3 separate regions of the Homo sapiens genome follow, and regions 1 and 3 are each linked to region 2. Evidence: fine-mapped expression QTL. A gene starts in region 2. Each other region holds a variant in brackets. All regions are shown on one strand. Distances are from middle to middle.

The links. PIP is the estimated chance that this variant, and not a neighbour inherited with it, causes the effect.
Region 1: its variant is the best candidate, but not a certain one, in a credible set for the expression of EXOSC3 in transverse colon (GTEx, PIP 0.66).
Region 3: its variant is the best candidate, but not a certain one, in a credible set for the expression of EXOSC3 in aorta (GTEx, PIP 0.55).

What each region holds. Positions count from the first base shown.
Region 1 is chr9:37,731,061-37,741,330 of GRCh38, reverse strand. It overlaps FRMPD1 (FERM and PDZ domain containing 1), which reads right to left. Exons shown (of 16, transcript NM_014907.3): 9 at 10,228-10,270; 10 at 8,891-9,027; 11 at 7,732-7,858; 12 at 7,506-7,601; 13 at 5,597-5,779; 14 at 4,088-4,235; 15 at 447-1,253. Among named protein-coding and RNA genes, the nearest start is that of TRMT10B, 18 kb to the left of the region's middle. The variant T/C (reference allele first, on the strand shown) is at 4,045.
Region 2 is chr9:37,779,897-37,790,166 of GRCh38, reverse strand. EXOSC3 (exosome component 3) reads left to right here and starts at 5,103. Exons shown (of 4, transcript NM_016042.4): 1 at 5,103-5,446; 2 at 6,104-6,253; 3 at 8,030-8,181; 4 at 9,287-10,270. The coding sequence starts at 5,123. The coding sequence ends at 9,488. It overlaps LOC105376037 (a long non-coding RNA gene), which reads left to right. Exons shown (of 3, transcript XR_929599.3): 3 at 1-1,121. RefSeq lists enhancers at 5,211-5,350, 4,848-5,363, 5,361-5,420.
Region 3 is chr9:37,875,144-37,885,413 of GRCh38, reverse strand. It overlaps a transcript of SLC25A51 not described here and the pseudogene PAICSP1. Among named protein-coding and RNA genes, the nearest start is that of SLC25A51, 24 kb to the left of the region's middle. The variant AC/C (reference allele first, on the strand shown) is at 5,773.

The DNA.
Region 1 (10,270 bases), 49 kb after region 2:
GACCCCAGAAGGCCTTGCAGGGCCACAGACGGCCTGTCTGTCTGGTTCTTCTTGCTTCAAGGCCTCCTTTAATGCAGCCTCAGGATCAGTGATGACATAGCCACTTCGCTCTGCCGGGCACTCCTGTCAAGCCCTTTCCTTTTTTGTAAATTCTGTCCCTCCCACAGGGCCCAGCCCATTTGCCCCCTCTTCTGGGAAGCCTTCCCTGATTCCCACTGTTGGATGAATCCCTCCCATCTGCTTGCCACAGTTGTCTGAACCTCCCTTGCAGGCCTGCCACGATGCCTAAAATTTGGTCCATGGAATCTGTATCTACCTCCTCAGAAGTGTACAGGGACCCTGTTTCACTCATGTGCCTTCCTCTCAAGCTTGGCCCCAGGCCTTGATCCCCGGGAGGCACTCAGGAGCTGCCTGCCGTGTCTGCAGACCTGCAAGGGACGGCTCACCTGACGGGGGGCCTGGGGGAGTGAGCTTATCAGCCGCGTCATAGTATTCCTCATCTGAGCTGCCATCCTCAAAGGCCAGTGGTGGGTGCAGGGCCAGGGGTTCCAGCATGGAACTGGGCTGGGCCTCAGTCCAGCCCTGCTGACCCCAGGCTGGCGGGGCTCCCCCTTGCCGGGAAGCTGTACTCTCGGAACTGTCACTCAGGTAGCTGGCCGGGGAGACACTGGAACACAGGCTGTAGTAGTCAGCGTGGCTGCCTTCATACAGCCTGGGGTCCAGCCTGACTGTGCTCAGTTCTGGTGCCCAGCCAAATGTCTCCAAAGCAGCACTCTCGGAAAACTCTGTCTTCTGGCACTGGGGGTTGGCTCTCTGGGCCAGGTCCAGGAGACAGAGGAAGCCACTGGTTTCAATCCCGCTTCTCTCCTCCTGGCTGTCAGAGTCAATGCTCTCTGCGAGGCCTGGCGAGCCAAAGTGGAAGAAGGTGGACCTGCTGGAGGAGCAGGTGTCTAAGTCATCCTCTTCCAGAGCGTCCATGGACTCACTCGAGCCACTGGTCCTGTAGCCGCGGCTCTCAGTGTTGGCTGAGTCGGACGCCTCGGACTCGGCACTGTCTGTCGTGCTGCTGGCCCCGCAGGTGCTGGGGCCCCTCCTAGCCACCTCAGGTGTGGGGCTGTTCCCAGGAGGCTGCTCCTCCTTTATGAGTGATCTGCAGGGTGCCAGTTTCACCAGGCGCCTGTCAGAGAGAGGTTCGAGTACGCAGTCCACCTCAGAGGACTCCTCTGAGTCACTGCAGGCCCTGGATTCATAGCCTGCAACACAGGGTACAGCAACAGTTACACAACAGAATTCTCCTACCTATGTGTCCTTCTAGCCCCCTGACCCCCACCCAACCCTGCCAGACGAGAAAACTGAGGGCCAGAGGGTGGCTGGCCTAAGACCGTCCTATACTGACGAACACGGGATCCGAGGGACTCCAGCTTCCATGTTCTCCCCATGCTATCAGACCGCCTGTCCCACATCTCTCTGAGCTAAAGGAGGCTGGATTAACTCCATCCCCACCTCCAAGGAGAACTGTCTGTTCATGGAAATGTGGTATTTACTTTGATTCCTCTTTGTGTGGGCAGCACTGCCCAGGTTTGCTAAGCCCCTCCCCAGACCTCAGTTCTATCCTGCCTGGGCGTCAAAGTCAGATGGGGAATCATATTTTAAAAATACAACAGATCCTTGGCCCTACCCCTGATGTACTGAGTCAGATCGCTAGAAGTGGGGCCTGAGAATCTGTATTTTTAGCAATTTTATGACGAGTACGAGGCTGCTAGGCTGGCACCATTCTAAAGCCTGGCCTTCTGGATCCATGGGTGCTATGGGCTTTGTAGGACAGTGAAAACTCATCCAGCGGCAGGTTCTCAGGAAGGATTAATGGTAGGAGGCTGGGGAGCACTGAGCCAGGTTGCAATCTCTTTATTCCTGTAAGCCTCCAGAGTGATCTTTCTCAAACTTCTCTCTGACCTCATCACACCCTGCTTAAACCCTCTGATGGCTGCCCTGCTTACGGGGAAGAGCCTGGCCTCCCCCACAACAGTTACAGACTCTCACAGTATGGCCTTGTTGCCCTTCTCACAGGATGGCCATGGCGCCTCATGCACAGTCTAGTCCTCCCTTGCCTCAAAGGATGGCCCTAAGGCCTCCTCTGCAGGCTCTTCCCCCTCTCCCAGGATGGCCCTGAACCCTCCTCTGCAGTCTAGTACCCACGACAGGATGGTCTTGACACCTCCCCTTCAGTCTAGTGTCTCCCTCACAGAATGGCGCTGAGGTCTCCTCTGTAGTCTAGCTGCCCTTCTCGTGGTGGGGCTCCTATCTCTTTTCACCATCTCCCTTTTCCCCTCTTGCAATATGGTCCAGCCCCTCCTCAGGCACCCAGTCCCCCATGGCAGCCTTCCCTGCCACGTTCCAGCCACCCATAGGGAGAGCTCCTTTCAGGTCATGGCCTTTTCCTCGGGTCATTCCTCCAGGCCCCCTCGGCCTTGAATGATCTGTCTTCCTTTTCCGTGCCTGGTTAACTCCAGCATGTTCTTCAAGATCTATTTCCAATACCTCTTCCTCTAGAGAACTTTCTCTGACAGGCAGCAGCAGTCCCCCCCACAACCCCTCCACAACAGCCCTGTTGCCACTCTGCGTTGTCTCCCTGAGCAGACTCTGAGGAGTCACCCCTCGTTCATAAATACATTGTGTAACAACAAAGGTAACAGGCTGGGCGCCGTGGCTCATGCCTGTAATCTCAGCACTTTGGGAGGCTAAGGTGGGCAGATCATTTGAGGTCAGGGGCTCGAGACCAGTCTGACCAACATGGCGAAACCCCATCTCTACTAATGTACAAAAATTAGCCGGGCGTGGTGGCAGGTGTCTGTAATCTCAGCTACTTGGGAGGCTGAGGCAGGAGAATCACTTGAACCCAGGAGGTGGAGGCTGCAGTGAGCCAAGATTGCACCACTGCACTCCAGCCTGGGTGACAGAGAGAGACTGCCTCTAAAAAAAATAAAAATAAAAACAAAGGTAACAGATACTCCAAACTCATCACTTTCTAACTGTTTTACTTATTGTATTAGTACCTATTCTCTTGAGCTGATTTCTACTTTATCCATATAGAGGAAACACTCTACAGTGGTGTGCTATTGATCACCTCTTCCCATCTCCACATTCATCATGGTATCATCATATCGTGGTAGCCTGAAATTACCCATCGTGAGAATGTTGACACCATGGAATTGGGCAATTCCTTCAAACTGTTTTTGTCCCTCTGCAGGGAGTTGTTAAGCATTTATCAGCACAGCCCTAGGTTCATGCTGCATCAATGGTGCTGAGGCAAAAGCCTGGCAGAAACTGGGAGCTGGCCTAGGAAACTGTCTTACCTGCCTTGCAGAGAAGTTCTTTTATACTTCAAGAGATTGCAAAAGAGTGCATAGGTAAGGAAGAGAAGCCAGGTCATCTACTTCCTGAACAAATAAGTGACATCTCTTTTTGATGAGAAATAATGATAATCTTTTTTTTTTTTTTTTTTTTTTTAAGATGGAGTTTCGCTCTTGTTGCCCAGGCTGGAGTGCAATGGCACGATCTCGGCTCACTGCAACCTCCACTTCCTGGGTTCAAGCGATTCTCTTGCCTCAGCCTCCCAAGTAGCTGGGATTACAAGCATGTGCCACCATGCTCGGCTAATTTTGTATTTTTAGTAGAGATGAGGTTTCACCATGTTGGCCAGGCTGGTCTCAAACTCCTGGCCTCAGGTGATCCACCTGCCTCAGCTTCACAAAGTGCTGGGATTACAGGCGTGAGCCACAATGCCTGGCTGAGAAATAATGATAAAATGCAGTGGATCTGAGAGACAATCTTAGGAAATACAGCAGGGAACTAGAGCTCTTCCACAGCATTCCTTGGTTTCAGGAAAATTTCAGATACAAAGAAAGCTTCTTTGTTTAGTATTTATGAAAGATCAATTGTTTACTAGGAAATAAACAGAGAAATAGCTCTCATCCACTTGAGCTGAAGCCTCGGCTCAATTCAATTCACCACCTCCCTTTAGGCTGCCCTTACCTACAAGGCCAG[T/C]GAAAGGGGCCTGTCCTTATTGGGGCAAGACTCAGTGCCTCACCTTCTTCTGCAGATACCCGGTGCGCTTGTTGTTTGTTTCCAGGCCAGAGGAAAATGGAGGTAACTGGGTCAACCAACAGCCTGTAGTACCCAGCAATCAGGCAGGCTAGGTCTTTTGCACTGTTGGATTCCAGCAGCAAAGTCAGAACCTTTGAAAGCAAATAGAAATCTCATGTTTATCAAGGACCAAGGGACAGTCTGAAGACTGACAACAAAGCCATGTGGGACCAACGAGAGATTCCAGGTAAATCCGGCCATGGTCCACAGGTAGGTCTCCTGGTGCCCCATATCCTCACTTGCAAGGCTTTAAATGAGGACATGCATGTACTCGTACAGACACCATCGCGTGTGTGTGTGCGCACACATACACACACACACACACACACTCTCACGCACTCACACACTCACTCACACACAGTGGGTCCTTCCCACCCAATCTATACAGTGTCTTCTGACTCCTCATCCTCTACCCCAGCGCCATATCCAAACTGCCCCATCCCACCCTGTTCATTCCTGCAGAGGGACTTGCAAGACTGAACTTAAAAAAGAAAAAGGAGCAAGAACATGTGGAGAATGAGGGAGAGGGTGATAAGAATAAAGCACCAATATTGAGTATGTTGGGATTAAATCAAAGGAGGGCAGAATAAAAGTAAGACCTTTGAGAGAGGCTCAGGAGGTACCCTGCACTAGTTACCTTTTTTTTTTTTTTTTTTGAGACAGAGTTTTGCTCTTGTCACCAGGCTGGAGTGCAATGGTGCAATCTTTTGCTCACTGCAACCTCTGCCTCCTGGGTTTAAGTGATTCTCCTGCCTCAGCCTCCCAAGTAGCTGGGATTACAAGCGTGAGCCACCACACCGGGCCCACTATTTACCCATTTTAATGCCCACCACTCAAAGCTTTTGAGCAGCAATCTGGTCCCATTCATGTGATAAAATCCTCTGGTGGGCCGGGCGCGGTGGCTCACGCCTGTAATCCCAGCACTTTGGGAGGCCAAGGCGGGTGGATCACGAGGTCAGGAGATCGAGACCATCCTGGCTAACACAGTGAAACCCCATCTCTACGAAAAAATACAAAACATTAGCCGGGCATGGTGGTGGGCGCCTGTAGTCCCAGCTACTTGGGAGGCTGAGGCAGAAGAATGGTGTGAACCCACGAGGCGGAGCTTGCAGTGAGCCAAGATCGTGTCACTGCCCTCCAGCCTGGGCAACAGAGTGAGACTCTGTCTCAAAAAAAAAAAAAAATCCTCTGGTGTTCTCCATCTACGTTTCTAAATCCAACAGGAAAGCACATGGTCCATCTCAGTTTGTGCAAAAAAACCTTTTAGGACCTCTTCAGGAAAATTTACCATTTACCACTTTCCGTTTGATAGAACAGGATGGACAATTCGTCCTCTTAAGCAGATATTGGACATTAGACTTTATTATTATTTAAAATTCATATAAACTAGCCTGGCCCCTATTTGGCCCCAAATTCCAGCAGTTGAATTCAGAATCTCTCCCCATTGTGTTACCTTGACGTCCTGAAGATACACTTTGACGACGCTCACTTTCTCAGACTCTTCCGTTAGCTCTACACGGCTGATGTTTGCAAACTCTGCCAATGTGGACATGATGTTGAGTTTGCTATTGATAACCTGGCTAATCCCATACTTGGCTCCAACTAGAAGGGCAATGTAGGATTCTCTATCCTGTAACTGCAGAGGGTGGAAGGGGAATTAGTCTCCATTCGCAAGCGAGTGAAAATACATTTCACATGTAAGCAATAATACCTCTCGCTGCAAACTCCTTGATTCCTACTTTGGATCCTAACCACCACTCCTCCAGACTATTGCCTAACTTGGACCCCATCAACAGCTAAATCAAAGTGTAAATTTATTTCCCCAAAACTCTTTCCAATATAGCCCTGAGCCACAGCCATAAACACATCTGTATTTTCACACCTATGTACCTATCTTCCTGCTCTTTGAATCCCTTCCCTGCCATCATTTCCCATTTAAATCCTGATCCTTCTTTAAAAGCTTACATCAAAACCTACTGCCTATGGAAAGCATCTGCCTGATCTCAGCCTCCTTAAGCCAGAAATCTCCCTTTCCTCTCTGTTGTTCTGTACCACTTCCTCTTACTTCTCTACTAGCACTGAACACTTATGACTTCTTATTTTAATTATTTGTATTAAGTCTCATTTTCCACATTAAGTTTCTTGACAACAGAGTCTGCATTTATCTCTATTTGTAACCCGCAGTGCCCAGCAAGCACCCTGAACCTGTTCCATGTAGCTGGTTGCTTCTCCCACTACCAGTTCTTTCCTTAGACAAGAAAGGTAAAGGGAGACTGGGGACTGGAACTGGACAGCTGGGAGAGGGTAGAATTAGCCCTTAGAAAAATTGGGAAGTTTTTCTTGTACCTTCAAAACTTTCCTTTCTGTGATCTAGTCTCTTTCCCACCTTTTGGGTCTTCTACTTAAACGAAGAATCCATCTGTGTTTCCCCTTCCCCTAACTATCTGATGCTCTTCCTTTCTTTCAAAACACTGATTCTCTTCTTCCATCTACATTGTTAGGTTAGCAGTCTGATTACATTGGCCCATCACTGTAAATGACTGAGATGCATACCAAATCTTTTGAAAGGATTTTGGTTAATATTTTTTTAAAACCCCACTCTAATTGTAAATTGGTTTTGTGCTGCAGAGTCCTGGGGCTGACAGTGCTGGAGGAAAGCTCTCTGAAACCATACCCCCGAGACACTGACTGCTGAAAGGCACAAGCTCTAGGCCTAGGCTCCAAAAAGAAGCAGGCAGGAGAATGGGAAGAGAGCAGAGGGCTTTTCTGCTTCTCGTTTCTCTTCTCAGGCCCACCCCTCATTCCTCCCTTCTGAACAATCAGAGACTCAGCTTGGCAGTCAAACACTCTTATTTTTCTTTCATGATTTCCAATTTTCCTCTTCACCTTCATATACCCAAAGCTCCAGAGTGAACTGCTTACCATCCCCTTCTGACCCAGAATGCCTTTTCCTCTCTACTGAAGTCTGGCCAAATTCAGGCTTCCTCTTGCCTCTTTCCTTAACCCCTTCTCCTCCCTATACTTACCCTGAAGCAAGCAGTGCTACCTTCTGTCTCCAAACTCCACAGCAATAGGCCTGAACCTGTCTCATGGCTTTGCTTCATTTTGTTGGGTAGCTTGTTTCATCCTTCAAGGACGGAAATCACATCTTATTCAGCCCTGCTTCCCCTAGCATCTATCACAGGGGTAGCACCAAGCAAACGCGTGGTAAATATTTTCCAGTGGTGTACTATTTAGTTTACCAGACAAATTCTAGTACATGACAGAGTCCTCAGGAATTTTAGGCTAAAAGACACATTGATTTTCAGAGGATCTCTAAGGTCCCTTACGTGAGTAGGATTTCACAGTTCTCTAATACATACCATTAAAGTAGCATTAAAGATTCTTCCACCATATGTCTTGAGTTCTCCGAGGATCTGTAGATAATTTAAACGTAGCTGGGCAGCAGAAATAAGTTGCTTAATAGAGAAAAAAAAACACTTGAAGTCAGAGTTATTCATTGGTCTAAAATCCAGGCAGTGTTGAAAATGTTTTTCCTAAGGTTTCACAGACGACAGCTGAGTGGGTCGGCAGAGGCACCTTCATTACCTTCTGTCGGGGTTCCAGCAAATTCTGGTTCCTCTTCATGTGGAAGCTAATGGCTTTCTTGATGTCTTTGCCTTTCATGTTTCGGAGTAAAGTTGGAGATATAAAGTTCTCTATTCCCCAGTCTTTCCTGCCATGAGACATTGGAGACAAGGAGGCCCATTTCTACAGGGTACTTGGCTCTAATGAAGAGCATAATTACATTTGATTCAGTACTTAGTGTTCCCATAATACAGCAATTACGAGCCACTTTCTCCTCCTCTCTTTTTCTTTCTCACACACACATACACACACTCTCCACAAAAATCCCCACAGGCATTCAGGAACTAAACCCCATTGATCATTCTGGGAGCTCATTACTCTTGGTGTGGTGTGACCATCTATCAGTCAGAGCAGGAGTTCTGAATCTTTTTCACTACAAAATACATGGCAAATAATGACAGCATACAAGAGAGTACAAGACACTCTCATGGGGCAACGCAGAGCTCCTGTGAATCCCCTAGGCTAAGCTTCAGCATGGTGCCAGCCTAGCAGCTTCAAAATCCCCCAGAAAATTGCTAAAACTACAGATTCTCAGGCCCTGCTGCGAGAGATTGGACTTAGTACATCAGGGGTAGGGCCAAGGATATGCTGTATTTTTAAAAATATGATTCCCCATCTGATTCTGATGCTCAGGCAGGACAGAGCTGAGATCTGGGGAGGGGCTTAGCAAACCTGAGTGATGCTGTCCAGAACAATTCTAAGCTAAGAATCAGAAGGTGCTGGAATCGTAGGACTTGAAACTGCTCTAGTGGAGACATAATGCAATAGGAACTGGTTCATATCCACGGGAAAAATTAACTTCCAAGGCATTCCCACCCCTAGAAAAGCTTAACACTGATGCTGGCAACTGATTTCCCAAGACATCTTCCCAGGAACAGGCAATTTACAAGGGAATCCTGTGACATTCCATCTGGAGTTGGCTTCTGTCCCAGAGAGAGCAGCCAGGTTCAGACATCTGGGGGAGCCAGGTCAGATTAGAGAGGGTGCAGAGGGAAATGGATGGAAAGACAACAGACAGATGGGTAGGTGGGTGACTATCAGCTTTCTGTGGCATCTGGCCCTCCTGGCCAGGGGCCAGCAAGTTATAAATGCAATGCAGCTGCCATCCCCTGCCACTCACTCTATATACTTTAAAGAGATCTTCTGTGGCTGGGCACAGGCGTAGATCCGTTCCTGGATGTGCAGAGCCGCGAGTCGGAGTGCAGAGCTACATTTCATTTCTACAGCAAAGCGCTCCTGGAGCACATCGCTGCAGCTCTAGAAGAGATTAAATAGAGCAGATGGGAAACAAAAGCAGACATACTGTGTCCCCTCGTTCTCTCGGGTGAAAGGCAGCAGGACCAGGAGCTCCGCTTTGAGAGCTGGCTCTGACAGTTCTTGGCTGTGTGACCTTGGTTAAGTTACCAAGACTCTCCAAGCATTTGGTGTCTGGTAAATGAGGATAGTAAAATCTACCTTATGTGGTTTCTGTGAGACTTAAATTAGATAATGCATATGAAAGCAGGTATAAGGCACACAGTGTTATACAAATATAAAGTATTGATGGCGTTGTTATTGCTATTATTATTATTTTCTGCCACCATTTCTGTAAGACTTGGGGCAGTCCAATCCACCTAGTCTGAGTTATCTCATCTGTAAAATGGTGATATCTGCCAAATGATTCTTTTTCTTTTTTTTTTTCTTTTCTGGAGACAGAATCCCGCTCTGTCACCCAGGCTGGAGTGCAGTGGCATGATCTTGGCTCAATGCAAACACCACCTCCAAGGTTCAAGTGATTCTCCTGCCACAGCCTCTCAAGCAGCTGGAACTGTAGGTGTGTGCCACCACGGCTGGCTAATTTTTTGTATTTTTGGTAGAGACGGGGTTTCACCATGTTGGCCAAGCTGTTCTCAAACTCCTGACCTCAAGTGGTCCACCTGCCTCGGCCTCCTAAAATGCTGACATTACAGGCGTGAGCTACCGCACCCGGCTCCAAATGATTATTTTTCATCAGAATAAAAATGGCATCATAACTCTCATCTAAGGAGGTAGAATAGGGGGAGCACCAGGCCACGGATCAAGAACCAGGTTTTGGCTCTGCCACTAAGTGAGTGACCCAGGCAAATCACACGACCTTTCCAAGACTCAGTGTCATCATTCTAAAACGAGGTTTTAAAGCACTAAGGCCCCTTTTGGCAATAAAAACTGTAATTCTAAAGATCCTAAAATGGTATTAGAAAATGTATCATCTACATTGAGGACTGAGCCTGAATTTCATTCTGATATCGCACACCTGCTAAAACAGCAACTCAGTGATGGAAAAGGGAATTCTGAGCGATGATCAGGCCCATTCTCCTTCAGATAAAGAGAATCCCTACCAGGGAGTTGTTTAATGGCCTCGAGCTCACGTTCAAAATCACCCAGTGCACCATCTTTGAGAACAACCACTGTTATTTTAGGAAGCACAGACCCAGTCACCTGCAGATAGAGGTATTCAAAGGCCACGGGGTCTTCTTTCAGG
Region 2 (10,270 bases):
TACAACAGCTCACTCCCTCAGGGAAGGAGGCTGGTTGGTTTGCCACTTGCTACAAAAGATGCTAGGCCCTTAGCCCTGGATCCCTCAGTCATGGTGCAAACCACTGCATGTGCAACCACTGTCCGGGCCCATTGCATTTACTCCATAGGACTTGAGGACAGGCCAACCAGTGCTACCTTGCTGGTACTCCTACTGTATGCTGTGTTGAATAATAAATTTCTTCATCTGATCCACCAAATCTCATCTACATTGGTACCAATGGAGTTGTGGCTGGTGAACCTGCTTTCTTGCTTAGTCGTCTCCGTTGGAGTCTTGTTATTTCTTGCTATTCTCTAGGAGGTTGGGGCTCTTCTCTAACAAAGGGTGCCATGACACAGGCACACACACACACTACAAAATGAAAATAAACATGAACTAGAAAGATGTTTCCTTATTCAAGAAATGCAGATAAATGGCAAAGCTGTTGGAAACCAGAAAACCATGTAATTTTGAGTATTTAAAATCAATCCTGTATTGTGATACACTAAGACCAAACTTGAATGTTATTCCACATAAGAATCTAGCCAACAGAATGTAGTTCAGATTTGGGAAATGATGGTGAGGAAACTATATTTTATGGAATTGCTAATACATTTAAAACAGTAGTTGGTAAGAAAAAAGCGTGTTCTGGGCCAGGTGTGGCGGCTCACGCCTGTAATCCCAGTACTTTGGGAGGCCGAGATGGGCGGATTACCTGAGGTCAGGAGTTCGAGACCAGCCTGGCCAATGTGGCGAAACCCCGTCTCTACTAAAAATACAAAAATTAGCCGGGAGTGGTGATGTGTGCCTGTAGTCCCAACTACTTGCGGGGCTGAGGCAGGAGAATCGCTTGAACCTGGGAGGCGGAGGTTGCAGTGAGCCAAGATCAAGTCACTGCACTCCAGCGTGGGCAACAGACCAAGACTCCGTCTCAAAAAAAAAAAAAAAGTGTTCTTTTACTTTTTACAATAAATCCTGTTTGAGAAGTTATGATCCTTGTGTAAAAATATCTGTAGCAAGTAGTCTGTCATTTGTGCAGTGATAACTGTGGGCATTTATGTTTTTAGATTAAATCCTGTATTTGAATAAAGATGTTAACAATACTTTCATGGGCTTTTATGGTTAATTTCAGTATGTAAATTAGCATGTAGTTCATTTATAATTTTAGAAACTAGTAAAGTAAAAAATATTAAAGATTCACTCAAATTATTACTTCCTTTGTAACACCTATCCTAACCCCTGCCTTCCTTCCATGTAGAGACAACTATTTCATCCTCTGTACCCTCAGGGCTGACACTCTATTCAGGTTGTTGCATCCACCTTAACACTTGCTATCTTCATGTGGAGAGAGTGAACTCCCCCAAGGGCAGGGACCAGGACTCAGCCGCCTCCCCAGCTCAATTCCTGGCTGAAAGCAAATGCTCAACTAGTGTTGGTTAAAAGGAACAAATGCCCAACCTCACCAGTCGGTAAAGAAAAGCAACCGTGAGATGCCACGTTTCTAACTTCTAAACTAGCAAAGATTAGTTATGAAGAGGAAGTTCTGGGAGGAGTCCAGAAAGCTACACTCTGGTCCAACCTTTCCAAAGGTCAATTTGGCAATTTCCCCATATGTCATACTAATGTTGTGTAACCCCAAATTCAGTCTCATGTACCTGATGCAGAGCTGAAGCCAAACGCTAAGACACAGGTGCTTGGAGATAGAGAAAGGTTTGTTCAATTGGGCCAAAGCAAGAAGGCGGAAGAGCAAGATCTCTCAAATGTTACTTAACAAAGAGATGACAGCAGGCGTTTTTATGGGGTAGGGTGTGAGGGAGGGTTTCCGGGAACAGAGGGGAAAAGTCTGTGCCTCTACAGTCTCAGATAAAACTTTGAGCAACCAGACTTATGGGTGTCAGCAGCTGGTCAAAAAGTCCTTAATGGCATTCATTCCTTCTGCAAAATATTTTCATGACCCTGAAGTTATCTCTCCTGCTAGACAAAGAAACAGGACAACAGCAGTTTATAATTATATTGTGGGAACAAGAGATATTGGGCAAAACGGGAGCGCTTACTATGTGCATGCAGGCAAGGGCCTGATCAGAATTTTCACTACGGCCGGGCGCGGTGGCTAACGTCCGGAATCCCAGCACTTTGGGAGGCCGAGGCAGGCGGATCATTTGAGGTTAGGAGTTTGAGACCAGCCTGGCCAACATGGCGAAACCCCCTCTCTACTAAAAATACAAAAGTTAGCCAGTCATGGTGGTGCATGCCTGTAATCCCAGCTACTTGGGAGGCTGAGGCAAGAGAATCGCTTGAATTTAGGAGGTGGAGGTTGCAGTGAGCCGACATCGTACCACTGCACTCCAGTCTGGGCGGCAGAGCGAGACTTTGCCTCAAAAACAAAAAACAAAACAAAACAGAAAAAAAAAAAACACCAAACGGAATTTTCAATACTTCAGTTACTAAAAATGCCAGACTACTTAAATCTCAAGGGGCCTGGTTACACTCCGAATGGGGAGACGTAGGCCAGAGGCACTGGAAAGGTGAGCAGTCTCGACTGCTTCGGCTCGAAACCAGTAAGCCTCTGAAGAGAACGGGCGTAATCCACCTCGCGATTGGCAAGGAAACACACGCACCCGCAGAGGGCAAAGCGCGCACGCCGCCTGCACCGGGCTCTGGCCTCCTCTGCATTCCCCAGTCGTTGCACTTTTCCCACTTTTATAACCAGGAGAGGAGGCACGCGCTGCCCGAAAACGCGAACCGCGACCCATGGGACGCTAGAACCGACCCGCGCGCCCTCGACGGCTTGAAGCCGGGTTCGAGACACTCGTTCGCGGCCTAGGGCTCCCGCCGCCTAGGACCGGGTGCTCACTCTCGACAGGGCGCAAGACCGCCAGGTGGCGAAACACCTCCTCGGTTGCGCGCGGTCTGGTGGGCAGGCTGCGGTCCCGCGTGCCCCACCCGCTCTGGGCGTGTCAGGGTGGTAGGTGTTCAGGAGTGGAGCCCCGCCCAGCCACCGCCTTCGGGTCCCGGCCTCCCTGTTTCATCTGCCTTGACCCGCGAGAGAGCTACACCGCTCGCCACGTGCGGCCTCCACAGGGTAGTGGGCCTCATAGGACTCAGCCGCTAGATCTGGGCCGAGTTTCCTCCAGAGACTTCACTACCGACATGGGGTGTATCAAAGACGGTCCAGAGAACATTTACCGACCTGCCTGTTTGCCTGGCCGGAATGTGAGGTCCTTGAGCGCCCTTGAGCCATGGCCTTGGGCCTGCCAAGATTGAGGCAGGCGTGGTCACCGAATACTTCTGGAGTGGGGAAGAGAGCACAATTTACGCTGTCCCTGCCACAGGAGCTCCCACTCTTGCCAGGGAAACTAACCTGGAGGTGGGAGCTCCTTTTATTTGTTGACCTTTTTTTATACCCAGGGGAAAATGGCTTGCCAAATTTGGAGGGTGTGTTAGAGATGATCTGTCTTAATCATCCTAAAAAATCTAAAAATTCGGCCGGGCTTGGTGGCTCATGCCTGTAATCCCAGTACTTTGGGAGGCCAAAGTGGGCCTATCGCTTGAGGTCAGGCGTTCAAGACCAGCCTGGCCAGCATGGTGAAACGCTGTCTCTACTAAAAATACAAAAATTAGCCAGGTGCGGTGGTGCACTCCTGTAATCCTAGCTACTCGGGAGCCTGAGGCAGGAGAATTGCTTGAACCTGGGAGGCGGAGGTTGCAGTGAGCCGAGATGGTGCCACTGTAGTCCAGCCTGGGCGACAGAGCGAGACTCCGTCTAAAAAAAAAAATCTAAAAATTACGTTGGAAGCAGGTGCCTCAAAGAGATGAGCAGTAGAAAGGGAGGGCCGCTAAAGGCAATCGGTCAGTCACGGCCTCCCAGACCCTAGGAATTCTACCACTGCTGGAGAATCTGATCAAGCACTAATTGAAGGTTCGAGTTGACAGAGAAAACGGTGATTTAAAATAGAACCCCCAAAGTCAGATAGATGATTGGAATCTCTTTGGGTTTGGAATTCAACTGCTTCTCACGTGCGCAACTAAGTGTGCTCCAGGGAAATTTGAGTTACTGATATTCCAGGCCATGTAGGGCTATCGGAAGCATGTGAAATATGTATATTTGCAGGGGGAAAAAGTCTAGGGAGAAATACACACCAAAGGAATACATTCGTTCATTCATCAGGTATTACCTATTTCATGCCACACCTTGGGCTCTAAAGAATCAGAACTACAGTGTAGCAAGGGAGAAAAACGGGCAAGATTAAAACATCGTTTATTTTCTTCTTTTATTTTTCTCTGTGTTTTCTAAATGTGACTAGATCTCTAACAACCAAGAAGGTTTTATTTATTTTGAAAAAAACTACTTTTCCTGTTAAAAGGTCAGCCACTCTTCTGAGGGCGGAGTCGGAAAGAAGGTCCCATGAACCCACCTAGCGTCCAATTTCCCTTTTTTTTTTTTTTTTGACAGGGTCTCACTCTGTCCTCCAGACTGGAGTGCAGTGGCACCATCTAGGCTCACTGTAACCTCCGCCTCCTAGGTTCAAGTGATTCTCCTGTCTCAGCCTTCCGAGTAGCTGGGATTACACGTGCGTGCCACCACGCCCGGCTAATTTTTGTATTTTTAGTAGAGACAGGGTTTCACCATGGTGGCCAGGCTGGTCTTGAACTCCTGACCTCAAATGATCCACCCGCCTCGGCCTCCCAAACTTCTGGGATTACAGGCGTGAGCCACCGCGCCCGGCCCCAGCGTCCAATTTTCAAAGCCCCTCTGCTCAGCTTCCAGAGATCCCAAGAAACTCTTAAGTGGAAGTATCTCGTATCCCCACGATGCGACCGGTCACAAAACACGCGACCCGAGACACTGGAAGTGGAGGCTTTTCGATGGACCAAGCTGCGCGGTTTTCATACCGACCCGCGGCCAGGCTGTCAGATAGGTGGCCGGCCACAATCACTGCCACCTTGGACAGGGACCCGTGAGCTGACGGCCATCAAGCTTCATAAACTGGTCCGAATCCAACGGACCGCTACTGCCGGAAACGGAAAGTCCTCAAGGGCGGGTGTTGGAAGCGGAGCGGAAGCGGAAGGCGGGTACCGGAAACGGTGTTTGGTGGAGCCCGCGATGGCCGAACCTGCGTCTGTCGCGGCTGAATCTCTCGCGGGCAGCAGGGCGCGCGCTGCACGCACAGTACTAGGTCAGGTGGTGCTCCCGGGTGAGGAGCTGCTCCTGCCGGAACAGGAGGACGCGGAAGGCCCTGGGGGTGCAGTGGAGCGACCGTTGAGCCTGAATGCTAGAGCGTGCTCGCGGGTGCGCGTTGTATGCGGTCCGGGCCTTCGGCGCTGTGGGGACCGCCTGCTGGTCACCAAGTGCGGCCGCCTCCGTCACAAGGAGCCCGGCAGTGGCAGCGGCGGCGGTGTTTACTGGGTGGACTCTCAGCAGAAGCGGGTGAGCTGGGACTCCGGAGGGGTGGTGCGGCAGTGAGAGTGGTAGCCCTGCTTTGAGAAGACCTCCCAAAAGAAGAGAGGGACCCTGAGGCCCTCTTTTGTTCAGGCAAACCTAGAGCCACCGTAGTCTTGTGCCCACTTCTGCATGTCCTTTAGAGGGACCGTGAACAATAGGAACATAGCCTGAGAAGGGCGACCAGGAGAGAAAAACGTTTGGAGACCGTGAGTCATGATTATAGTCTTCAAAACCCCACAGCAGGCCTGCCGTTTGGAGTCTCAGAGGGCAGGACTAGGCTCAATGAGTGGATGTCATAGGGAGTTAATTTCTCCTAGAACAGGTAAGAATTTCATATAGAAAAAATTGTCTATGGAATGGGCTTCCTTGGTTGTAAGGATTCCTTTGCCACTGGACTTATGCCACAAAGCTAGAGACTTACTGGTTGGGGTGCCTAAGAGATAATGGAGTTTGGACTCAATTAACAGACTACCAGAAGCTGCACACCCGGCACTTTATGAAGTGATTTTCTTTTACCGAAAGTGGCATTTGATCAGATTTCTCTTTAATGACAATAAAGTAACCACAAAGGACTTGCTGAAGGTATCTTCCAATGGTATCTTGTCATTTATGGCTGTTTTTTCATTCTGTTTCTTTTTGTAGTATGTTCCAGTAAAAGGAGACCATGTGATTGGCATAGTGACAGCTAAATCTGGAGATATATTCAAAGTTGATGTTGGAGGGAGTGAGCCAGCTTCTTTGTCTTACTTGTCATTTGAAGGTGCAACTAAAAGAAACAGACCAAATGTGCAGGTAATTACGGGAGCCTTTGGTTTCAAAGAAACAAACATCCATTCCCTAGAACACTCACATATCCAGAAGGCTATCTGAATTGTCTCCAAAGCATGACCTAGATCTCTGAGCTTGTATATAATTGCCCCAGGCTCCAAGAGTTTCTTCAGATGCTCCAGGATCAGAGCCACATAATTATTATTATTATTTTTTACATTTACAATTTATTTTACATTGGCTACATTTGTTCTTGGGATGTTTCATTTCTACTGAGTTGAAAGGTTGTATCTATCATCGCCATTATTTGTTATGTCCATATCCTCTGGACAAGGATGTCTGCTGTAGGCTTAGAGGAGGGACAGGTGGTGCAAATTGACATTATCAGCTATCCATCCATCCTGGCTGTAGGTCCTAGGAGCTGATAGAGGAGTAATATTGTTACCTTGGGTTTTCAATTTGAGCTTTTCAGGTAGCATAGCCACACTCTTCTTGTCTATCCAGCCTGAAATTTAGTGATTTCTTCACCTCTTCTCATTCACTTCTCATGCAAATTTAGTTGCTTAATCCTATTTTGATCCTATTTGATTCTGTCTCTGATCTTTGGCATGTCCGTCCCTTTATCTCCACAAGTTCAGGCTTCAGCTCCCTCTTGACTGGTCTCAGTCACTTCTTCATTAATCCCTGCCTCCACGCTTTTACCTCACCATCCAGGATTTTGAGAGCTGACATCCTCACACGGTCACTTTCTCGAAAAGACAAGATTCTCCAAAATCTACAGAATTCCTTGGCATTACACTCCAGGTGTCTTTCCTCATCCCTAATTATATCCTTCATACAGCCATACTCAAATCACACCAAACGCCATTAAACTCAATTTCCTGCCCTTATTTGCACATGCTGTTCCCACTGTCTTGATTGCACTATCCCTTCGCACCCTATGGAACACATTCTCATTCTTTGAGACGTAGGCTAAACATGACCACCTCTGTAAAGCCATCTCTAGTTGCCACTTTTCTCGTATCTTTGCTCTAGCACTTACTGGATTGAGCCTTGACTGAGGTTTGTTTATATGTACCTCCCCACTGCCCTCCAAGACCAAATGCTTCTGAAAAGCAGAGAATGTTTTGTTCCTTTCTAGTTTACATAGTCACCAACAAACAGTAGGTACTTAATACGTTTTGTTGAGTGAACAGAATGAGTTCACTCTCCATTTCCTCAGTTTCGTCCCTTTGAAGTTTAGCTCTATGAGGTTTTTAAGTAAATCCTGCAGGGAGAAGTGTCAGTGAATTATTGTTTGATTTTGCTTTGAATAATTTGCATGCCGGAGTTCCTTCCTTTCTCTGTAAATCTGTAATTCTCTAGGGTAGTGCGACCTAATATAACTTTCTACAGTGATGCTGTTTTGTATCTGCACTGATTAGTATGGTAGCCACTAGCTGTTGAGCACTTGAAATGTGGCTAATGCAACTCAGGAAATTAATTTTAAATACCTAATTTTAATTTAAATGTAAGTTTAAACAATTGGCTATCTACCATATTGGACAGTGCAATCCTAGTGTTCTCTGGCCTTGAGATGGCTCCTCGTCTGTGATTTCCTGATTGGTGAAAGGGAATGATACATGTGTTCCTTTTTTTCCCCAAGACTCAACTCCAAAGTGACTGTGGGAATCCTATAGTGCAGTCAGTCCCTTAGCCACAGAACTGTAGGTGGCTGGCATTGATGCCTGTGAGAAAGAACCAATAGTAGCACCTGTAGTTTGCTGAGAGGAAATGAACTGGTTTTTAATATCATTGTAGGTTGGAGATCTCATCTATGGCCAGTTTGTGGTTGCTAATAAAGACATGGAACCAGAGATGGTCTGTATTGACAGCTGTGGACGAGCCAATGGAATGGGTGTCATTGGACAGGATGGTCTGCTTTTTAAAGTGACTCTGGGCTTAATTAGAAAGTAAGTCCTGATGTCTGCTGGCTTGACTGCTTTTTATAATTATACATTCTTGGAAAGTTGGTTAATCTTCAGGATTCAGATTCTTTGTAACGTTTGAATTTCTCCTCAGAGTTAGAAATCAGTATCCATTTTAACACATTTGGAAACTCATGAATTTAATCCTATCTTCTTGGAAACATATCAAATTCAGATGTGTTTGGCTGTGTAGTTTCTGGTGGGCTGATACTTCATGCCTTAAGCTCTTACTCTGTATTCATATCTTCCTTCCCAGGCCTGTTGCTTATTTGACTTAGCCCAAATGTGAAAACTGGCCTTTCCCCTGTTCTGAGTCACTTGAATACAGATGCAGTCTGCAGTTGTATAAAATTATCAATTTTTTCTAATTATGGGGGTCACACGCAGCTTAGATTGTGATGTTCAAGGTTATGTAGACATTCACAGAAGGCTTCTGACACTTGGTCATACTGAGGCATACTGAGGTTCATGCTGAGGCAGATTCTCTTTTTGGTGTTTAGAACTTTACCCACCCAAAGCTGTGCCATATTCAGGGGCTTTACTCCTAGAGCCAGTGAAGTTGAGAGCTATCTTGTATGCCTCTCCTTACTACATATCCTAAAGATCTGGAGAATTAAGTTTGGACATCAGAGAAGCATGTTTTTAACCAAGAAGCATGTTATTAACCAAGCACCACCCTTATGGTTTGAAAGAGCCAATGTTCCTCTCCAAGTACTGAATTTAACACAAGAGAATAATATGGCCAGGAAAATAAGTTTAAAGTGTCTTAACACTGTAGATAAAAAAAGTTATGATTCCCAGTCTAGAATTAAAGTGCTCTGACCATCTAGGGGAATGACTTTTACAAAGTTGGTAACCTAGGGAGTTTGATTTCTTTGTAAGGCATAGCCCACCTCTGTGATTTCTAGTATACCTTTGAACAGTGTAAAGTTCCTTCTTGGAAGAAAGGAGGCAGCAAATGTCATCACGTGCCTTGTTCTTGTTGAACAGCTATGGAGAACTGCTCAGAAAAGGAATCACATTCTAAAGGAGACTCCGGACACACCTTTGCCACTTCATTAAATTTCATTTTCTTTTCTCTTCCCACCAGGCTATTAGCTCCAGATTGTGAAATCATACAGGAAGTGGGAAAACTCTATCCACTGGAGATAGTATTTGGAATGAATGGAAGAATATGGGTTAAGGCAAAAACCATCCAGCAGACTTTAATTTTGGCAAACATTTTAGAAGCTTGTGAACACATGACGTCAGATCAAAGAAAACAGATCTTCTCCAGATTGGCAGAAAGTTGATATAGGTGGACTTTTTTACAGGTCAGTTGAGGCAAAAAACTATGGGTTTTTTCAGGTGAACCTCCCCCATTTAAATACTCAGAAGATAAGGTGTGAATGTATGTATTATTAGAGTCCGAAAGTATTTTTATAAGTTACTGGTTTTCACCCACGCTTTTGTGGGAGAGAAAATCATTGCAAAATCATTTTTTTTGTTCGGTACAATAAAGTTTACTAAAAAACAGTATTAGGGTTTATTTGGAGTTAACTCCCTTAGTAATTGCTACAGCTTCCATAATTAACTGGAGGTCAGCAGTAAAATAATTTTGTGATTATAACAGTAAGCCAGGTTCACCAGAGGAAATGTGGAATACCTAAGTATAAAGCAGCAAAGAAATGTCACCTGTAGTCCCATTATTCAGCGGGTGAGTATATAACAACGAAATACTTTTTCATTTACCAAGTATTGTGTTTTGCATGGATTAACTCCTTTATTCTAACTGCAGAAGACACTTATCCTCATAATTGAAACTGAGGCACAGAATTTAACTTGGCCTACATTCTCTATATTCATCAAATTGAAATTATAGTTATTATAGCTTATATGCCACTTTGTAATATACTTTTGTCTACTTCAAACAGCATGATACATTTCACAACTTTAGTCACATATTTCATGTTACAGGATATTTTTGAGTTTTATCATTATATAAATAACACTATGAGGATTTCTGAATCCAAATCTGGCCAAGTCTTATTTTGCTAAAATCATTTCCTAGGAGCTAAGCATAGAAAACTCTTCT
Region 3 (10,270 bases), 95 kb before region 2:
GCATCAACAAAATAGGATAAAAGGTTCCAATAGGAAAATACAAGGTTTTTTTTTTTTTTTTTTTTTTTTTTATCATTACCTAAGAGCTTTAGGCTAATTGCCTGGTAAATAGCTGTCCATCTGATGGCCTTTGACAGGGAACCTAATCCCCAAGATAGGATTCTTTTTCTTAAACCAATCTTGAAATCGCCTGCATTGAAACATAAGTGGCTGTGACCGGCCAGAGGAGAAGGTCCTCAGGGGCCAGGGGCTCCTCAGGCTTCCTTTGTTACTCCATTGCTTGCTTCTCTGCCCTCAGGAGCAGCTGCAGAGGACAGTCTTCATTAAGCTCAAGCATATGACAAAGGGGCAGAACAGAAAAGAAAAACAGCTTATTAGGTATAGGCTTTTCATGATAAATTGCTTGTATTAGTTTTGAAACTAAGCACCTATTGGATAGGCATTATACTATTTCTATTTAGATATGGTAGATCAAGGAGCTATGAAAGTTCCTGTTTTGCTTTCTAGGTTTGAAAGTTTTCTGTTTGATTCTGACTGTGATCTTCAACCCTTCCAAAATGTCCTTGTGTTATAATTTCACTTATTTCATTGCCAAAAGATGAAGGGACTTGAATCTTGTTATAGTTGTTCCATCCTGTTAACAAGTTTTCATTTTGTGTGTGGATCAAATTCTGGTTAGCTTGGTTTCTTTGAATTACTGGTGCCATCTCAGCAAAGGCCTGTGGTTATTTTTCCCCTTGAGTGGGAGTTGGTCATATTCAAGCATCCTGTTCTCTTAAAACTCTCCTTTTAAAAAATAAACACTTCCATAACATTTTGTTTTGGAAGTCTATTAATGCAATCCCACTTTTTTCCCCCTAGTTTCTAAATGTTAAAGAGAGGGGAAAAAAGGCTCAGGATAGTTTTCACCTCACAGTGTTAGCTGTCTTTTATTTTACTCTTGGAAATAGAGACTCCATTAGGGTTTTGACATTTTGGGAACCCAGTTTTACCATTGTGTCAGTAAAACAATAAGATAGTTTGAGAGCATATGATCTAAATAAAGACATTTGAAGGGTTAGTTTGAATTCTAAAAGTAGGTAATAGCCAAATAGCATTCTCATCCCTTAACAGACAAAAACTTATTTGTCAAAAGAATTAGAAAAGGTGAAAATATTTTTTCCAGATGAAACTTGTGCCACTTCCAATTGACTAATGAAATACAAGAGACAGACTGAAAAAGTGGATTATGCATCTTAAAACCCTTTCTGTAAATATTATGTAGCTAAAGATTGATTTCCAGCATCTGACATGACAGTAGGTTTCTTGTTAACCAGTTTTTCTTCTTTCTGGATAATTGCATATGAATATTTATACATACTGACCAAAATAAAGGCCTCAACTTGGTAGTTTACTGAAAGTTCTTGGACAAATAGTCCATAAAAGCTGTTGACCTCTAAATGCACTATGGCTGGTTAAATACAGTGACCATCCTTCTTCCAGCTGTAAAGGATGAAGCGTATTAAGCATTAGCCAGGCAGTAATAAAGCTAAATAGCCATACAGCAGCTCTGACAATGTTGTGCTGGATATTGCAGTTTGCTTTCAAGGTGCAGATGTAAGGATTTAAAAAAATAATAATTTGGCACCAAATAAATATGAGTAGCATCCATTGGCCTATTAAATCGAGTCAGGATTTGAAGGGAATTGAGTTTGAGAAATGAATAAATAAAGGCACCTTGGTGCCTGACCCCCTCAATCATGCGTGTGACTTTGAGCACTCACAGGTGTGTGCAGCTACTCAGCCCAGGGCAGGTGGGTTAGCCTGGGGTTATACCTTGGCCCTGGGAATAGACACCATTGGGCCTTTGGTTTTGTTGGGCTTCCTTTTGTCTTTACACTCCACACAGGTGGTAGAAATCTGAGTTCTAAAGCACTTTTGTGAAATACAAGCTAAGTGAGAATTCTAAAGAAAATGCTTTGGTTTCTGCTGTCTCAAATAAGTGGCATTTAAAAACAATTATTAATAAATATTTTTAATGGTTTTAACTCAGTATTTTTTTTTATTTCTTTGTCACTCTTTACAGCTTTTGAAGACCAAACTGCAAATACATTACCAGGGATGGTTTTGTGTTGTCCTATAGACTTCTTAAATTTGACAAAAAATTTAGCAGAACTTGTAACCAACAGCTTTGTCTGAACTTGAAGTCAAAATGTGTTGTTAATAAGAGATTCTAACTATTGCTTTTACCTTCAGTGTGAACTAGTGTGGTAACAACTTTGAAAAGGCAGGCCGGGTGCGGTGGCTCACGCCTGTAATCCCAGCACTTTGGGAGGCCAAGGCGGGTGGATCACTTGAGGTCAGAAGTTTGAGACCAGCCTGGCCAACATGGCGAAACCCCATCTCTACTAAAAATACAAAAAACTAGCCGGGTATGGTGGCACATGCCTGTGATCCCGGCTACCCAGGAGGCTGAGGCAGGAGAATCGCTTGAACCTGGGAGGCGGAGGTTGCAGTGAGCCGAGATTGCGCCACTGCACTCCAGCCTGGGCAACAGAGTGAAACTCTGTCTCAAAAAAAAAAATTGAAAAGGCAAATGTGATTGAATATCTGAAAAGCTTTAAAAGTGGCCTTTCTGTTACGTCTGTGGCACAAATGGCTCATGAGCGCAGGACACTTATGGTCTTGTGTCCTATACTTCATGTGTGATGCCACCAGAAATGTTATGGATTCCGTATTGAACACACTGAGAGTGGTATGAGCCCTCAGGACTGCACCACAGAGTAAACACAACCTTGATATGGTGGCGAATATGTGTGTCTTTCTTGTTTCATTTGTGGTTGGGGACAAAATCGATGTATTTGTCTAAATAGTCGATATTCATCTTAACATGGTTGGTTGTGTAATCACCAGCTATATTGTGAACTGTGCAATAAAACAGAAGCGTTTGTGTATATAATTACCTTTGGATACCTGAAATTCCCAAGCTTGGTTACAATGTAATGCTCAGTATAAGGCTGTGCAAACATGTAAGGGAATAATGGTGGTCGATGGGATATATGAAATGGGATCTAGAGGGCTTCGAGTGAAGCCAATCATGTTGAACGAACACTGGTTCAGTGTAGATGAAGTAGAGTGAGGCGTATGCAGTCATAAAATGAAGGGTGGACAGGAGATTACATTTGAAGAAAGGATAAGCACTCAGACTTGGTCTCTTTTAAATTAAAATATTTCTTTTCTCATGTGCAAATGTATATCAAAGACTTGAACAGGTATTCTCTTGAAATTTGAGGATTTTTAGTTTTTAATGCTGTCTTTGCTTAATATTAAATATGTGTTGCCTATTGGCTCCCAAATTGTGTGGGAGTCTCTAAATGTTTCCTCTTGAAGGTTCATTATTGAAAGTGGTTAAGTGCACAATGCTATTTTTGTTTGATAGTTTGAGTTTTATGACCCTATGAGTTTAAATGAAATCTGTTAAATGTTTCAGAGTTAACACTTTTTTTTTGATAATTTGGAATAAAGTTTGTTTTTTAAGCCCACTCTTTTTGGTCTTCTCTTATGCTTGAGTAGTTGCTTGTTACTGGCACGTTCCTTTTTTGTGGTAGTGATAGATTGATCTGTTAGTCTTTTTATTCAGAAAACATTTAGCACACTACCTTGACTTTTAGCAACTTAACCTGGGGATGTTGCAGGTAAAACATTCCTTTGTCTATCCATCTTATTTCGTCAAGAGGGGTTTCATATAAGTTTTATTTTCCAGGTAGTTTAACTGCAAAGCTTTTTGTTTGTTTGTTTGACAGGGTTTCTATTGCCTGGGCTGGAGTGTAGTGGCATGATCATGGCTCACTATAGCCTTGACTTCCTGGGCTCAAGCGATCCTTCCGCCTCAGCCTCCTGAGTAGCTGGGACTACAGGTACGTGCCACCAAGCCCAGCTAATTTTTGTAGAGATTTTCATCATGTTGCCCAGGCTGGTCTTGAACTCCTGGGCTCGAGCAATCTGCCCACCTTGGCCTCCCAAAAGTCTGGGATTACAGGCGTGAGCTACTGTGCCTGGCCACATTTTATTTCTTAAAGGTCTTCCTCATATTTAATACACTTCTCTACTGAGTTTAAACTTTCTTGGTTTAGCTTATCAGTACTTTCTGTTGTAATAGAGTAGCCTCATGCAATGTTTACTCCCAAGTTACATGGTCTGGATGTTTGTGCTTTTCATTTTTTTTTTTTTTTTATATCTACTTTTGCCTTCAGAGCTGCTCCTTTCTGTTGTAGCTCATTGGTTAGGAGAGTGTGAAGTTTTAGCCACATTGTGAATTTGCATGTTAAGTTTTAGGTTGTTTCCTGGCTTTAGAGATCATTGAGGTTGCCTGATAAGGACAGCAAGGTAAAGGAGCAGTTGCTTCTAAAAGTCCTGTTTTGGATTGAAATCCATCATAAAGAATAAGTGTAATATCCTGAACTTGTACATTTAGATTTGATAAAAAGGGTGTTTAATCATCATCTGATGAAATCTTTTAACCCACCCATAGCAGCCACTGTAGAGTTCTAGACCTCCAGAGTGAGGAGTAGGTGTGACCAGGAACAGCCCTGGGGGATCTCTGCATAGCTACAGAGCACTCCCAATCCCCAAGAGACTGGTTCCCATCTTAAATCTTTTTATTTATTTATTTACTTTTTTATTTAGAGACGGGGTTTCGCTCTTGTGACCAGGCTGGAATGCAATGGCGTGATCTCGGCTCACCGCAACCTCCGACCTCTGGGTTCAAGTGATTCTCCTGCCTCCGCCTCCCAAGTAGCTGGGATTACAGGCATGCGCCACCACGCCTGGCTAATTTTGTATTTTTAGTAGAGATGGGGTTTCTCCATGTTGGTCAGGCTGGTCTCAAACTCCTAACCTCAGGTGATCTGCCCACCTCGGCCTCCCAAAGTGCTGGGATTATAGGCGTGAGCCACCGCGCCGGCTGCCTTAAATCTATTTATCTGACGTTCCCAACTAGGAAATTTTTTGTCCAAATGAGTATATGTGATTTTAAAGTAGAAATCGAAGGTAAAATAGGATTTATCTCAGTTCCTATCTCCCTTCAATCTATTCTTCATATTGTCAATAATTTTTTTTTTTTTTTTTGAGACGTGGTCTCTGTCGCCAGGCTGGAGTGCAGTGGTGAAATCTTGGCTCACTGCACCCTCTGCCTCCTGTGTTCAGGCGACTCTCCTGCCTCAGCCTCCGGAGTAGCTGGGATTGCAGGCATCCGCCATCACACCCGGCTAAATTTCGTATTTTTTCAGTAGAGACAGTTTTGCGCCAGGCTGGTCTCAAACTCCTGACCTTAAGTGATCCACCTGCCTCAGCCTCCCAAAGTGCTGGGATTACAGGCGTGAGCCGCCGTGCCCGGCCATCAGTAATTTTTTAAAATGTCACTTCAATAAATGCTTTTCCTCTGCCATAAAGACCAAACATCTTGCTGTGGCCTACAGGAGACAGGATGATCCAGCCCTTGCCTCCCTTACTCTCATCTCTAGCTAAAACTGCGCTGCTGTCTCTGCACTCCAGCCACTGGCACTTCCTGATTACTTGGGGCACGCTGTACTCATCTTGCTCCCAGCCTCTGCCCATGCAGGTGCCCTCTGCCCTCAGCACTGCCTTTCTCTACTTCATTTATAGACTGCTGTCCTTCAGATCTCGGTTGAAGTGTCACTTCCTTGGGGAAGCTGGCTTACACTCTCAGGACTCGGTTAGGTTCCCCCGTCAGGCTCTTCTATGTCACCATGTTTCTATTTTTCACAGCACTTA[AC/C]CTGTTTTAATTACGTTGCAAATAGTTTTTGTTTGGGTCTAGAGAAGCATGTATTCACTAGTACATTTTATTTGTGTTCTCTAATTATTTTTTCTGCAGCTAAATTAGAAATTTGTAGTTTTCCCCCTAAAAATGCAATGATGTTTTCTCTGATTTTCTTGTCACCTTTCTTCCAAAAAATCCATGTGTTCAAAGTGCTTGCTTGCAGTTTGCCCCATAATAAATGGTTGTTTAATCCAAATATCTGAGTAGCAAACTGAGCTGATCCTTCTGGAGAAAGTATGGTTGAATAGCCGAGACCACTGAGTAGTCGCAGAGAAGACCACACATCCTGAACTCCTCAGTCTGGTGTGAGGGGAGGACAATAGATAACTGGATGTGTAGTGTTCCCAAACATCACTGATCCCAAACCATTGCTTCTGCCTGCCACTGCCACAAATACAGTACGACTGCCACCCCTTCATACTCAGCTTTAATCCTCAGCATTTCTTCTGGTCCTTTATGTGCAGATGTTACTCAAAGTCTACATGGAATGCCAAAATTTCCACAGGCCTTGATTTTTTTCACGGTGATTAAGATCAGAAGTAGAACCCATCAATACTATAACACTGCACTGACTTTCTGATTTCAAAAGCAACTCTACTCTCTACAACCCACGCAAAGTTTTTCCTTACCATTTGGAACCCTTCAGGAGTTACACTGAAGCCTTGATAAGACTGTTTCAGCCAGGAGTGGTGGCTCACGCCTGTAATCCCAGCACTTTGGGAGGCTAAGGCAGGAGGATTGCTTGAGTCTGGGCAACATGGCAAGACTGGCTCTATTTTTTTAAAATAACATTTTTAAAAGTATGATTAAAAGACTGTCTTTCTATTGGCTTTGCTCCCCCGATGGTGAGTGTCTCTAGGAGTCATTATCAATAACATCAGTGAGAATTTCTTTGCTGGTCACATGAACACCAAATTCAATCTTCATATCAACCGGTGTACAGTTCTGGGAGCAACCGGGATTTCTCCGGGATTTCAAAAACAGCCTATGTGGCATGACTCATGATATCCACTTCAGTTTTATACCAAGTGCAGCAAAGCCAAATTTTGCTGCAATTAGCTGTTGCCTAGACCACTGTGGGTCATGATTGGCATCATCCTTGAAAAACATCTCCACTTTAGGTGGGCAAAACTCACATCCTTCCTTGACACCAGGATTTCTTTCGAGTGAAGAACCAGTTGGTATTCTTCTGCAAACCATTCAGTTGGAATTATTTCACACTGGGGCACAATGAAAGCTGTCTCCTCACATTTTCTGGTGAAAGCAGTTTTAATACCTGCTTCCTGTAACAACAGAAAAATGCAACTGGTAATTTTATTTGAGATTGCAGCTTTTCCTTCCAGGTGATTCTGACTGCATTTCCTGCTGTAATCTGGTCCTTAGATTGCAGGACTTTTCCTGGCCTATCTAACAAGCAATTCATAGACCTCTTTTGTTTTACCCTCACATAGTTTTTTAGCAATGTTCAGTACCTCAGCTCTCACTATTATCCTGAGTGGGATGAAAGTTGCACCCATGCTGAGAGGCAGAAATCTCTGTTGTGAATATTTGATACCTCTTGCTTTATTTATTTATTTATTTATTTATTGACACAGATTCTCACTCTGTCACCTAGGCTGGAGTGCATTGGCGCAATCTTGGCCCACTGCAGCCTCAGCCTCCCAGGCTCAAGCGATCCTCCCATCTCAGCATTGCCAGTAGCTGGGACCACAGGTGTGTGCCACCATTCCCAGCTAAATTTTGTATTTTTTGTAGAGACAGGGTTTCACCATGTTGCCTAGGCTGGTCTCAAACTTCTGAGCTCAAGTGATCCACCCACCTCAGCCTCCCAAAGTGCTGGGATTACAGGCATGAGCCACCATGCCTGGCCCTGTTGCCTCTTTAAAAAGCCAGTCCTGGCAGGGCACAGTGGCTCACGCCTGCAATCTCAGCATTTTGGGTGGCCAAGGCAGGAGGATCTATTGAGTCCAGGAGTTTGAGAGTTCAAGTCCAGCCTAGGCAATATAGTAAGACCTTGTCTCAAAAAAAAAAAAAAAAAAAAAACAACCAAGAATCAAGAATGATGGGACACATGGATATTCAGTATCACAGCATTCTGGAATATCCTATGAAATGACCGAATGAAGGTCAGCCTTCATTTGTTAATGGGTCATGGAGGTCATTTAAGGAAAAGGTAATTTTTACATTGATCTCAAAGTACTGAATTGTTTTAGCTTGGGCTGCCATAACAAAGTACCATAGACTGGATGACTTAAATCAGGGTTCCCCAACGCCTGGGCCACGGACAGGTACCCATCTGTTTGGAGCCAGGCTGCACAGAAGGAGGTGAGCAGTGGGTAAGTGAGCATTACTACCTGAGCTCTGCCTCCTGTCAGATCAGTGGCAGCATTAGATTCTCATTGGAATGCAAACCCTACTGTGAACTGCAAATGCAAGGGATCTAGATTGTGCACTCCTTATGAAAATCTAATGCCTGATGATCTGAGGTGGAACAGTTTCATCCCCAAACCATTGTGTCGCTCCACCTATCTGTGGAAAAATTGTCTTCCATAAAACCAGTCCCTGGTGCCAAAAAGGTTGGGGACCACTGGCTTAAACAACATTTATTTCTCATGGTTCTGGAGGTTGGGAAGTCCAAGATCAAGGAGCCAGCAGATTTGGTTCCTGGTGAGGGCCCTCTCCCTGGTTTGCAGAGGGCTGTCCTCTTGCTATACCCTCACATAATGGAGAGAAAGTTCTAATCTCAGCCCTTTATAAGTAATTATAAATTAGTTATCTTTATAAGATTACTAATCCCATCATGGGCACCTCTCTCATGACCTCATCTAACCCTAATTACCACCCAAAGCCCTCACCTCCAAATACTATCACATTGGAAGTTAGGGCTTCAATATATGAATTCAGTCCACAACATTAGCTGCATGATTGATGAGACTGTTCTTTATTCTCCTTTAGTTTCCAAACACTGCCAGCGATCCTTTACTCTGAGAAATGTCTAGCCAATTTGAGATAAAACACTTGTGCATGAGTCAGGATTCAGAGGTACAGGCACTCCATTTTTCTTATCCCTCCTGGCACTGTTTCTGAATTGTGGAGCTCAATTGAATGAAATTGACTAGGAAGAGCAAGAAGAAAGTATTCTTTAGAATAGTTTGTCATGGAGCACTGCTTTGTTACTGTTAGAAGCACCATTAAGGCAGTGACTTGTTTACATTGTTTTAGGGCAGCTCACCTCTACAGCTGCTCTACCTTTCATGATCAACAGAAATAAAACAAACTCAGTTCAGGCCCTCTTTATTAAGCAATTACTTCCTTCTGATGTACACTAAAAAATGCATTTAGTTACACTGAGATGCTCTCTTGTTTCAGACAATACGAAGAAAAATAAACTATTTCTCTTTCAAGGGTCATCATATCTATAATGGGTGGTTTATAGTAAGTAGCTTTCTTGTTTCCTTGGGCAAAAGAAGCTTCAGAATTTTCCTTAGCCCTCTCAGTTTTCTGGGGAAAGTGTGGCTAAACAAATTTCCAGGTTTTCTCGGGCTTTACCTCCTCATTAAATAACAGTGATAGAGTTCTGAGAAGGACCAAGGTAGGAAAAAGTGGGTACAGGTGGAAACTGAGGATCTTTCATTTGTAATCTGTGTGTAAAATATGGAAGTAAAGAGTAAAAAAAATTAGGAGATGAGGGCCTCAGTTTGAAGATACAATTGATTTGGTTTTGGTTTTTGGTAGAGATGAGGTCTTGCTATGTTGGCCTAGGCTGGTCACAAACTCCTGGCCTCAAATGATCCTCCCGCCTCAGCCTCCCAAAGTGCTGGGATTATAGGCATGAGCCACCATGCCCAACCAGCAACAGTTTTATATACCTTGAGAAGGTTAAAGGGAAGTCCAAGAAGATTAAAGTTTTGCTGTTGCTATCTAGAGCTCTTGAAAGCTTCTGCCACTTGTGATCCAAGAACAGGAATGCATGTTATTTGTGTTTGGGAGCAATAACACATCTATTTGAGTCTATTTCAACTCGAACTAGAGGAAAACAGAATCCCCAATAATTTCAGTTTGTGCCTTTTACAGTTTTTCCTCATTTATTTTATTTAGCGAGTTTGTGTTACACCTACTCAGTGTTGTAAAACTGCCATTTCAGGACAAATCATTTTGAGTTAAGAGGTTCTAGACTTTTATGGAAAATAAAGAGCACTGGCTGCCCGAGACAAGTTCCAAAGTGAAAATGTAAATGTCTCTTGATTTCTCCATCGCCTCCCAGGCTGGATTAGGCCCCTTCTGTGCCAAGTGATAACTGTTTCTTGCCTGTCTCTAACTGCATGTTTGTACTTTATCTGCCAGGACAATGTGATCTCCTCGAGGGCAGGGTCTGTCTTTCAGATTTCTATATCCACAGATTAGAGGTTCTCATAATAAATACATTTAATGAAGTAATCAATCTGATCTCTG